2 separate regions of the Homo sapiens genome follow, and region 1 is linked to region 2. Evidence: fine-mapped expression QTL. Tissue or cell type: whole blood. Region 2 holds a variant in brackets; the other region holds the start of a gene. All regions are shown on one strand. Distances are from middle to middle.

Region 1 (5,387 bases), 140 kb before region 2:
ATTAGCTACCCAAGTAGCTGTGCGCCACCATGCCTGATAAATTTTTGCATTTTTAGTAGAGACATGGTTTTGCCATGTTGGCTAGACTGGTCTGGAACTCCTGGCCTCAAGTGATCCTCCCATCTGGGCCTTTCAAAGAGCTGGGAGTTACAGGCATAAGCCATGGCCTGGCATATGTCCTTTTTAAATTAATACATTAAATAATAATCTACCCATATGACTAAGACTTATTATAGTTTTGAAGGATTGAGGTTTTTTTTTGTTTTTTTGTTTTTTTTTTGAGATGGAGTCTTGCTGTTTTGCCCAGGCTGGAGTGCAGTGGCACGATCTCTGCTCACTGCAAGTTCCACCTCCCAGGTTCACGCCATTCTCCTGTCTCAACCTCCTGAGTAGCTGGGACTACAGGTGCCCGCCACCATGTCCGGCTAATTTTTTTGTATTTTTAGTAGAGATGGGGTTTCACTGTGTTAGCCAGGATTGTCTCCATCTCCTGACCTCGTGATCCTCCCGCCTTTGCCTCCCAAAGTGCTGGGATTACAGGCGTGAGCCACTGCACCCGGCTTTAGGATTGAGATTTTTAAATGAAATTTCGAGATATTGGCAATGAGAATGTGATATAAATAGAAGCACTTGTCCTGCCAATTACACTGTTTGTTGCCTGAGTTCATACACAGAAAAAATGCTGTTTCTGTTGGAGAATAGTAAAAAGAAAAAAAAAAGATTTGACTTTTTTTTTTTCTATACTCATTCCCAGATCCCCTGAAGACTTTCTATGTATCCCAGGCTAAGAACCTTACTCTGCAATCTTTTCCATGTACCATAAACTCAATAAACAGCAAACAGCTGTGATAAACTTGGTTCTTCTCACAAGTCATGAAGGAAAAGCCAAATATTCCACCCAAAGGACCTGGAACTTTTTATGGGGATTAATGATGAGTTAAGTTTTTAATTATTTATTATTTTGAGGAGTTCTCGAAATCAGATTTTAGCAAATTAGAATACTGTCTCTCATCCCTTTAGAAGGGTGAACCTTAAGGATAGGAATTGAAAACACCCACAATATTGTACTATACCATAATTAATGTTTAGTCATTGCTTATTTGGAATCTAGACACTATTCTAAGCATTTTGATAGGATTATCTGTTTCAACTTAACAAATACTTACAAGTTAGATTTTTAAAAATACATTTACAACAAGGAAACTTAGTATAGCTTGCCCAGGGTCACCCCCACAGCATGTATGTCAAGCAGGCTGTCTCTATGATAGTTTGGAGGGATACTATGATGCCAATTTGCTGGAGTAATAGAATATGGTGAATGATGCAGTGCTAGCTACAATCTGTCCATGATTAAAGGCACAATCAAAGCATAAATTTTCATAAATTTCAGCCCAACAAGGTTTTCTTTTACGGGTGTACATAGTCATGTTTTCAATCGGCCCTCGGTGATCTTATCCTAATTTGACCTCTAAATGTGTAACTTTCATATACTTTTAGTTCCCTCAGTAGCACTATCTAGCCTGCATGCCAAAGAGCCCTGCTTGGTTAACTAGGAATGCATAAATCAATAAAAATAATCTCAGAGACAATAAAGATATGAGTTACTTAAAATACTTTGAAAGCACCTTATGGCCCGGCGCGGTGGCTCACGCCTGTAATCCTAGCACTTTGGGAGGCCGAGGCAGGTGGATCACAAGGTCAGGAGTTCGAGACCATCCTGGCCTATGGTGAAACCCCGTCTCTACTAAAAAAATACCAAAATTAGCTGGGCATGGTGGCGGGCGCCTGTAACCCCAGCTACTCGGGAGGCTGAGGCAGGAGAATTGCTTGAATCCGGGAGGCAGAGGATGCAGTGAGCCTAGATCGTGCCACTGCATTCCAGCCTGGGCAACAGAGCAAGAACCCGTCTCAAAAAAAAAAAAAAAAAAAAAAAAAAAAAGCACCCTGTGAGGGAAACAGTACTAATTATTTGATATTCTGGGAAAAGTGGGGGACAATTGTCAGGCTTCTTTGTCGAAAGTTTATGAACTGATGGCTCAGTTAATGGCTGCAAGTATAGTGTGTGTGTATATATATATATATACCTAGCAGTATTTATTAAATCCCAGCTGAGGCTCTTTTGTTGCCTCAGGCCCCTCTTGGTCTCCTCCAGTCTGAGCAAGGGAGAATTGCACAGAAGGGCGGGAACTGACTGTGGTTCCCGCCCCTTCTCATGAGGTTTTCAAACAGGTCCGTCATGCTATTATAAAAGTGCTGCGTGGCTCTGCCAGACGTATTGCGTTACAGATTTAACAGCTGTGGTTTCAAGATGTCTGGCCGCGGTAAGGGCGGAAAGGGTCTAGGTAAGGGTGGCGCCAAGCGTCACCGTAAGGTATTGCGTGACAATATCCAAGGAATCACCAAGCCCGCTATCCGCCGCCTGGCTCGCCGCGGCGGCGTCAAGCGTATTTCTGGCCTCATTTATGAGGAAACTCGCGGAGTGCTGAAAGTTTTCCTGGAAAATGTAATCCGCGATGCTGTCACCTACACGGAACACGCCAAACGCAAGACAGTCACAGCCATGGACGTGGTGTACGCGCTCAAGCGCCAGGGACGCACTCTTTATGGCTTCGGCGGCTGAGCTTACCTCTACAGTACACTACCGCAAAACCAACGGCCCTTTTCAGGGCCACCTATCCACTCAGGAGAAAGAGTAGTAGTCACTGCTAAAAGTGTAGTTTCACGTGTTTAGTAGCTCCGGTTTTCAAGTTAAATGGTCTTATTACGCCTTGGCTTCATATCTTACTGGCCGGTGAGGATAGTGTATTAAAGTTTATTTTCACTCTTGCTGTGTCGCCCATGCTGGAGTAATCAATGGCGCGATCTCGGCAATCTGCAGTCTCCGCCTCCCGGGTTCAAACGATTCTTGTGCCTCAGCCTCTTGCGTAGCTGGGGCAACCGGCTTGCGCCACCAACACCCGGCTAATCTTTGTATTTTTTGCAGCGATGGGTTTTCGCCATGTTTCCCAGGCTGGTCTTGAACTCAAGCTCAAAAGAGATTTCCCTCCTCCGCCTCCGAAAGTGCTGGGATTACAGGCGTGAGCCACCACGCTTGGCCTGTGTTTTCTGTATTTCTGTAAGGAAACATGGCAAACTGCTGCTAACATTCTTCATGGCTATCAGAGAAACAAGGTAGCAAAGACTGTAGCTGCTGGAGAAACAAGGTAGCAAAACCTGTATCTCAGAAGGCAAGTGGTAAAGGCTGATGCTGCCGTGAAGAATAGTGAAAAAAATGGAGGTAGTTACTAGTTCCTACCAAGGCATTGTTATATGAAAGGAAGACAAAATGGCATTCAGATGGTTATTGGTGTGGGGGGATGGGAGGTGTGTTGGAGGCACTTGACTGGCAAATACATTCTTTAAAGAAGAAAGTAGTAATTACCGTGGGAGAAACAACCATGAAAGTACATAAGATTCAACATTTTTTAGTGGAATGGGGAGAGGCCAACTTGTTTGGTTCTGTTCCTCTGAGCTGCCTTCCATCCAGATCTACTGATTTTCTATTGTTGAATTTAAAAGGACTTTTTATTTATGTACCCGTGGCCAATTTAAAGGTATGTTGAACGAGTTCTTTTTTTGTTGTCCTTTTATCTTAAATAGTCTTAGACTTTATTATTAACAGAAGTCATTTTACCTTAAATCATAGATCAGGTTACTGTGGTTGCATGAATGGGTGTTTAAAACCGAGGTTGTCATGATTAAATTCCCACCTTCTTTCCCTTTACACCTCAGGAAATGAGACAAAAATAAGTAAGCCATTCCCTAGTGGGTTACTCCAGTCCTTACAATCGCAGGACTATCAGTATGCCACTGTATTATTCGCTGTCCTCAAAATGGATTTTAATTTGTGGAGAATATTGAGTAAACCCTTATTTTTCCAATAAAGTTTTTTCACTTTATCATAATAAAAAGAAAGCTGGACAGGTGGCTATCTAGCAAGAGACAACATTTCCTGGTCTTTCTGGGAGCAGATGTAAGCATGTGGCTACATTATTTCCAACACAGGTGAGACACATAGAAAAGTTACTACCAGGTCTGGGCTTTGAAACTTCCATGTTACCTTCTTCCCCAAGTATAATGGTATTGATTTCATTTTGAGCAATTAGAGAACATCAGGCCCTAGGAGATGACAGAACATTGACTTGGAAGGAACGAAATTTCCTGATTGATCACAAGGAGCAGAGCTGCTTCACAAAGCTGGACTAATCACAATGGATTTGTTCCATGAAACAAAAATATCTGTCTTTAAGCTTATTTATTGTTGAGTCTCTTTGTAAGCAGCATAACTTTATCACACAAAATTCAGTTTTGTTACTAAACTTATTTAGTATTGTGGAATGTCCTTCCATTGACCTGAAAGCTCTTTACAGAAAAGCTGATGCCAAATGAGCCTGTCGACTTGGTATCACCTCTGTTGGGTTCCATTATAGACAGAACAGAGTGGGGCTGATTACAAGTTAGAGATCAGGCAAGGCACGTGGCTCACGCCTGTAATCCCAGCTCTTTGGGAGGCCAAGGTGTGTGGATCACTTGAGGTCAGGAGTTTGAGACCCGCCTGGCCAACACGGAGAAACCTCGTCTCTAATAAAAATACAAAAATTAGCCGGGCATGCTGGCACATGCTTGTAGTCCTAGCAACTTTGGGGTCACAGAGTGAGACTCTATCTCAAAAAAAAAAAAAGTTATCAATGGGTAGACTAGATAGTCTATATGTCTTCAGCAGTGGTAACCTGTATATTTCAATGGGCTGACTTCCCTTCAAGAGTGGTTCTGCTGGGCACTGTGGCTCTCACCTGTAATCCTGGCACTTTGGGAGGGCAAGGCAGGGGGATCACCTGAGGTTGGGAGTTCGAGAACACCCTGACCAACATGGAGAAACCCTGTCTCTACTAAAAATAAAAAACTAGCTGGGCATAGTGGCACATCCCTGTAACCCCAGTTACTCAGGAGGCTGAGGCAGGAAAATCGCTTGAACCCAGGTGGCAGAGGTTGTGGTGAGCCAAGATCGTGCCATTGCACTCCAGCCTGGGCAACAAGAGCAAAACTCTGTATCAAAAAAAAAAAAAAAAAAAAAAAATAGAGTAGTTTGTAGTAATAGATGGATCAAAAACTCCTTTGAGAATCTGTTGAAAATAGACATATGAACATAGACATTTTATGAGGCTCATTATTCTCAGAAACTCAAGGAACTCCCAGGGCTCCATGGATTCCTGTCAACAACCAGAAGTCTAGGATTTCAGGGTCTGAGATCTAGAGATCCCAAATTTAAAGATAGAGAGGAATCGCAGACATAATACTAAATAATACATTGAACAGGAGTGAGTTACCATTTGCTGAGTGAAATAGAC
Region 2 (5,387 bases):
CTTGCACTCCAGCCTGGGTGACACAGCGAGACTCCGTCATAAAAAAAAAAAGCCGGAAGCAGTGGCTCACGCCTGTAATTCCAGCACTTTGGGAGGCTGAGTCAGGCAGATTACCTGAGGTCAGGAGTTCAGGACCAGCCTGGCCATGAAAATACAGCCTGGCCATGAAAACACACAATAAATTAGCTGGGCGTGGTGTCACACACCTGTAATCCTAGCTACTCGGGAGGCTGAGACAGGAGAATCACTTGAACCCAGGAGGCAGAGGTTGCAGTGAGTTAAGATGACGCCACTGCACTCCATCTGGGCGACAGAGCCAGACTCTCTCTCAAAAAACTAAATAAATAAAAATAAAGTTATGGTACATTGAACTTCTGTGTTCCTTTCTCCCTTAGATACTTTCATGGCTACCCATTTAATTGATGTTCTTATCATCTCCAAGAGTTAGTCAGGAGAGGAATCAACCCAAGCAAAAATAGCTGATTTTCTAATTTTCCTTCAATGCCCTTTGGGGTCTTAATCCATTTGATTTATGTACTTTCAATTAATCCTAACCTCGAATGTCTTCTGCAAACATGTTTCCACAGATGAAACTCGTCAAATGAAACACATTCCTTTAATTTATAGAGTTAAAAATTAGAAAAATTTTCAATTCTATTTGGCCTTTAGATTCAGTCTTGCATATGTTTTCTCAATTTTGTTCATGCTCTTTAGTTTTGTTTTATTCCATCACAATTGTTCACATAGCTTACTGGCTTAGGTCTAATGAACCATTCATTTGGAAATTAAAATTGGCCATTTTAAGATGAAAAAGATTCTTGCCTCAATTTTACTTAGTTTTTGAAACTGTCAATGAGGACACATGTTTTTCTGTACTCTTAGATTCACTAAGTAGTGTCTTGCAAATTTAACTGACAAAGGACAGATTAACATGCGAAAAAAAGAGCATGCAATTTTATTAGTATATTACATGCACAGAGTTCCCAAAGAAAAAAAAATTGAAACCTTAAAAACGCGGTTAGACTCACAGACTTATACACCATTCCAACAAAGGAAAGGGAGTTTGCACTTCATGGGATGACGAATTTGGGAATGTGACAAGGAAATAAATACATGGGCAATAAAAACCATGGAAGATAAAATGAAAGATAGAAATAATTGTAGTAAGGTTTGTTTTTGCAGAGTCATCTCAGTGCCAACCTTCCATATCTAGTGATAAGAATTGCTCTCTTTTTCCTGGTATAGCAGTTGGGGACACTTTTACAAGGGAAATTTCTGTCACCTTCACAAAGGGAAATTTGGGTAAAGAGAAGACAGAGACCTCTTCCTACACCTGTTGATTTTCAATTGCCTTCAGCTGAAAATAACTTTTATGCCAAAGTAGAATAATTTGGGGGTGACATCCTGATATTCTTCAAAACTTATATTTAATTTCACATTAGTAATTATATCATTTTTGATTTTTAAATTAGTTTTATAAAATAATTTTGAAAAACGGTAATAATATTCAAATAATTCCAGAAACACTGCTGATAAGCCAAAAACATCAATGAATATTGCATAAACAACTGATAATTCAACCATGAAAATTTATGACATTGTTCTTGTGTGATAAAACTATGAGTAACATAAAAACTAGAGGCTACTTGTAATGCATTATTCCAAACTTTCTGTTTTTTATTTATTTATTTATTTATTTTGAGACATAGTCTCTCTCTGTCACCCAGGTTGGAGTGCAATGGCGTGATCTTGGTTCACTGCAGCCTCCACTTCCCCGGTTCAAGCAATTCTCCTGCCTCAGCCTCCTGAGTAACTGGGATTACAGGCACCTGACACCAAACCCGGCTAATTTTTTTGTATTTTTAGTAGAGACGGGGTTTCGCCATGTTTGCCAGGCTAGTCTCGAACTCCTGACCTCAGTGATCCACCTACCTCGGCCTCCCAAAGTGCTAGGATTACAGGCGTGAGCCACCATGCCCGGCGCATTATTCCAAACTTTCATACACAGTGCTATCATGGCTACAAATTGAAGTATCATATTATACACTCCTAGGCAAAGCTCTGGATATTTTGGCTATATAAGCCTGAGGGAAATGTAGTAAGGACATTGTGGTTGAAATTCATACCAGAGATGAACAGGCCCAGTGCAAGACAGAATTACATCACTAAAGGATATCAGAAGAGAATAGGGATTTAGGGTACAGTGGCAACAACAGTTTTGGGAACTAGCATTTTTTGAGCACTTATTTACAATATGCCAAGCACTGTTGCTGATTACTCTATATTTATTTTCAAACACATTCTTGTCACAGCACTTTGAAGTAAGTGCCATTGTCATTCCCACTTCAGGGTGAAGGACTAAAGCTTGGTGTCATTAAGGATGTAGCTAGTTAGCTGTGTGTGTGTGTGTGTGTGTGTG[TGC/C]ATTTTTTTTTAAATTTAAAGTCAATAAATTTTTATTTGAAGAATTTCACATCAAGGTAAACTTTGTTCCTCTAAAGAGCTGGAGTCAAAATGTATCTTCAAAAGATTCATCTTCAAGTTAGCCCTTCTTAATAGAACTGATGCTTAATCCACAGTTGTCAGCCCACAGTTCTTTTATTTTGACTTTTTTTTTTTTTTTTTTTTGAGACGGAGTCTCTCACTGTCACCCAGGCTGCTGGGCAGTGGCGTGATCTCGGCTCGCTGCAACCTCTGCCTCCCGGGTTCAAGTGATTCTCCTGCCTCAGCCTCCTTAGTAGCTGGGACCACAGGCGCATGCCATCGTGCTCGGCTAATTTTTGTATTTTTATTAGAGACAGGGTTTCACTATGTTGGCCAGGCTGATCTCAAACTCCTGACCTCATGATCCGCCTGCCTTGGCCTCTCAAAGTGCTGGGATTACAGGTGTGAGCCACTGCACCCGGCCTTATTTTGCCTTCTTTAATCTCCATTTGAACATACACATACTGATGAAAACTACAACATTCTTCACCAAAAATCTTTGGGATTTAATTTCTTCAACCACTTTACTTTGGGGTCATTTTAAGATTAGGTGTATCTGCCTGGTTCTCAATTTGACACCCTTTCTCTCTAAACATGAATGAGTTCCAATCATATTTATTCCTAAGCTATCACACTCAAATATACTACAGATCTGTGGAATATGCCAAAAGTTAAGGTGAAAAATTAAATTATTAGGTATTTCATAGTTTTGCTAGTTTTTGATCTGTGAGTGAATATAACTATCCTCTATGTCCTGGCACTGTTCCTCAGAAACATAGGGTCCACATATGTAATTTTAAATTTTTTAATAGGCACATTTTAAAAAGTGAAAAAAGAAATCTATTTTAATGATTTGAATCCAGTGTAACCAAAAATTGTTTCAACAAGGTATCTAATATTAAAATATTGAGTTTTTACTTTGTTATTTTACTAGTTCTTTGAAATCTGGTGTGTATTTTACACTTAAAGCACATCACAGTTTGGAGTAGCCACATTTCCAATGCTTAATACTCACATATGGTTAGTGGCAACTATCTTGGACAGGACAGCTTTTATACTCTGGGAAGACACAAGCAAATACTTGCTCTGCAGCAGAATCCAGATGTTTTCCAAGAAAACACTTTTTCTGACCTGTTCCTGAAACCCAGGTAGTGTCTCTAATACTTTATATTTTATTGGTTTGTCCTATTGTAACCACCCAACGGGCTCTCCTTGTCCACTTCCTAGACAGAGCTGATTTATCAAGACAGGGGAATTGCAATAAGGAGCCAGCGCTACAGGAGACTAGAGTTTTATTATTACTCAAATCAGTCTCCTTGAGAATTTGGGGACCAAAGTTTTTAAGGATAATTTGATTGTAGGGGACCAGTGAGTCGGGAGTGCTGCTTGGTTGGGTCAGAGATGAAATTATAGGGAGCCTAAGCTGTCCTCTTGTGCTAAATCAGTTCCTGGGAGTGGTGGGGTGGGGGACTCAAGACCAGATAATCCAGTTTATCTATATGGGTGGTGCCAGCTAATCCATTGTGTTCAGGGTCTGCAAAATAGCTCAAGCATTGATCTTAGGTTTTAAAATAGTGATTTTATCCCCAGGAGCAATTTGAGGTTTAGAATCTTGTAGCTTCCAGCTGCATGACTCCTAAACCATAATTTATAATCTTGTGGCTAATTTGTTAGTCCTGCAAAAGCAGTCTGGTCCCCAGGCAGGAAAGGGGTTTGTTTCTGAAAGGGCTGTTATTGTTTTTGTTTAAAAGCAAAAGTATAAACTAAGCTCCTCCCAAAGTTAGTTAATCCCAAACTCAGGAATGAAAAGGACAGCTTGGAGTTTAGACGTTAGATGGAGTCGGTTAGGTAAGATCTCTTTCACTGTAATAATTTTCTCAGTTATGATTTTTGCAAAGGCAGTTTCACTGTCCACTTCACCTCACATCAGGCCTCTGACTAGAGGATTCCAACAATACTTAGGCCAGGACACCACCATGTCTCCTTATCCACCCTGAGGGAGTCCAATTTCTGAAACAAAGGAAACTATATATGATAGTATGAAACTATATATGAGAAGGAAATTATATATGATAATCAATTTTAGGGTTATCTTATTGATTAGAAGATATTAAAGTGTGACACTGCCTGGCAATGATATCTGCTGGTAGTAAGAATTTGGCGAATTTAGTGAAATTCCTGAGGCTGAACCTCCACTTCTGTAAAATGGAGACAGTGAGATAATTTGCCTTACAATGCTGAAGTAAGAATTTTACACAATAATTCAGACCAACCACTTCATGTGGTACTTGGCCCGTGGAAGACTATCAATGACAGTTAGTTTATAGTTTATACTATTAATGAATCCTTTGTTTCATTGTTATTTCCTTCTACACGTTGGCCTCTCTAAAAGAAGGTAATATTCAATACAAATAAAGTTAAAACAGCTTGCAGAGTTGTCCCAGGGAACTCACTTAACCACTGAAGTGTTCAAATTGCTTAAGGTTGACTTTATATTCTCCTGACTAACCTTTCTCCTTCTGGTATTTCTTCTGAGAACAGCACCACCATCCAAAGCATCATGCAAACAGTGGTCATCCCAGACCAGTAATTCTCAACTCACAGGGTGCTCCTGCAGAGATGTATTTGAATAGAGTGGTAGGATGCTGAAGAAGGCCACGTAAAATTTGGCCAGTGATCTGGGGCAGATTTATCCTGAAGCTAATGAAACACAAGTGTAAGGGCCTGTACTTCCAAGGTGCAGAGAGGGGCCCTACAAATGTGTTAGTTTGTCTCTCTCTCTCTCTCTGATTTTAAAATTTGCAGTATTAAGGTACTTTAATCACGGATGGTTCAGGCTGCTATTTTCACTCAATCCTCCTTTTTATTAAAATCACCATTGTCTGATTATGTTAGAATCCTGATGA

Evidence for each region. PIP is the estimated chance that this variant, and not a neighbour inherited with it, causes the effect.
Region 1: H4C4 starts here. The variant in region 2 is the best candidate, but not a certain one, in a credible set for the expression of H4C4 in whole blood (INTERVAL, PIP 0.67).

Annotation. Positions count from the first base shown.
Region 1 is chr6:26,185,998-26,191,384 of GRCh38, reverse strand. It overlaps H4C4 (H4 clustered histone 4), which reads left to right and starts at 2,273. Exons shown (of 1, transcript NM_003539.4): 1 at 2,273-2,675. The coding sequence starts at 2,309. The coding sequence ends at 2,620. RefSeq lists enhancers at 2,085-2,264, 3,047-3,672.
Region 2 is chr6:26,047,620-26,053,006 of GRCh38, reverse strand. No RefSeq gene overlaps it. Among named protein-coding and RNA genes, the nearest start is that of H3C3, 4.9 kb to the right of the region's middle. The variant TGC/C (reference allele first, on the strand shown) is at 2,420.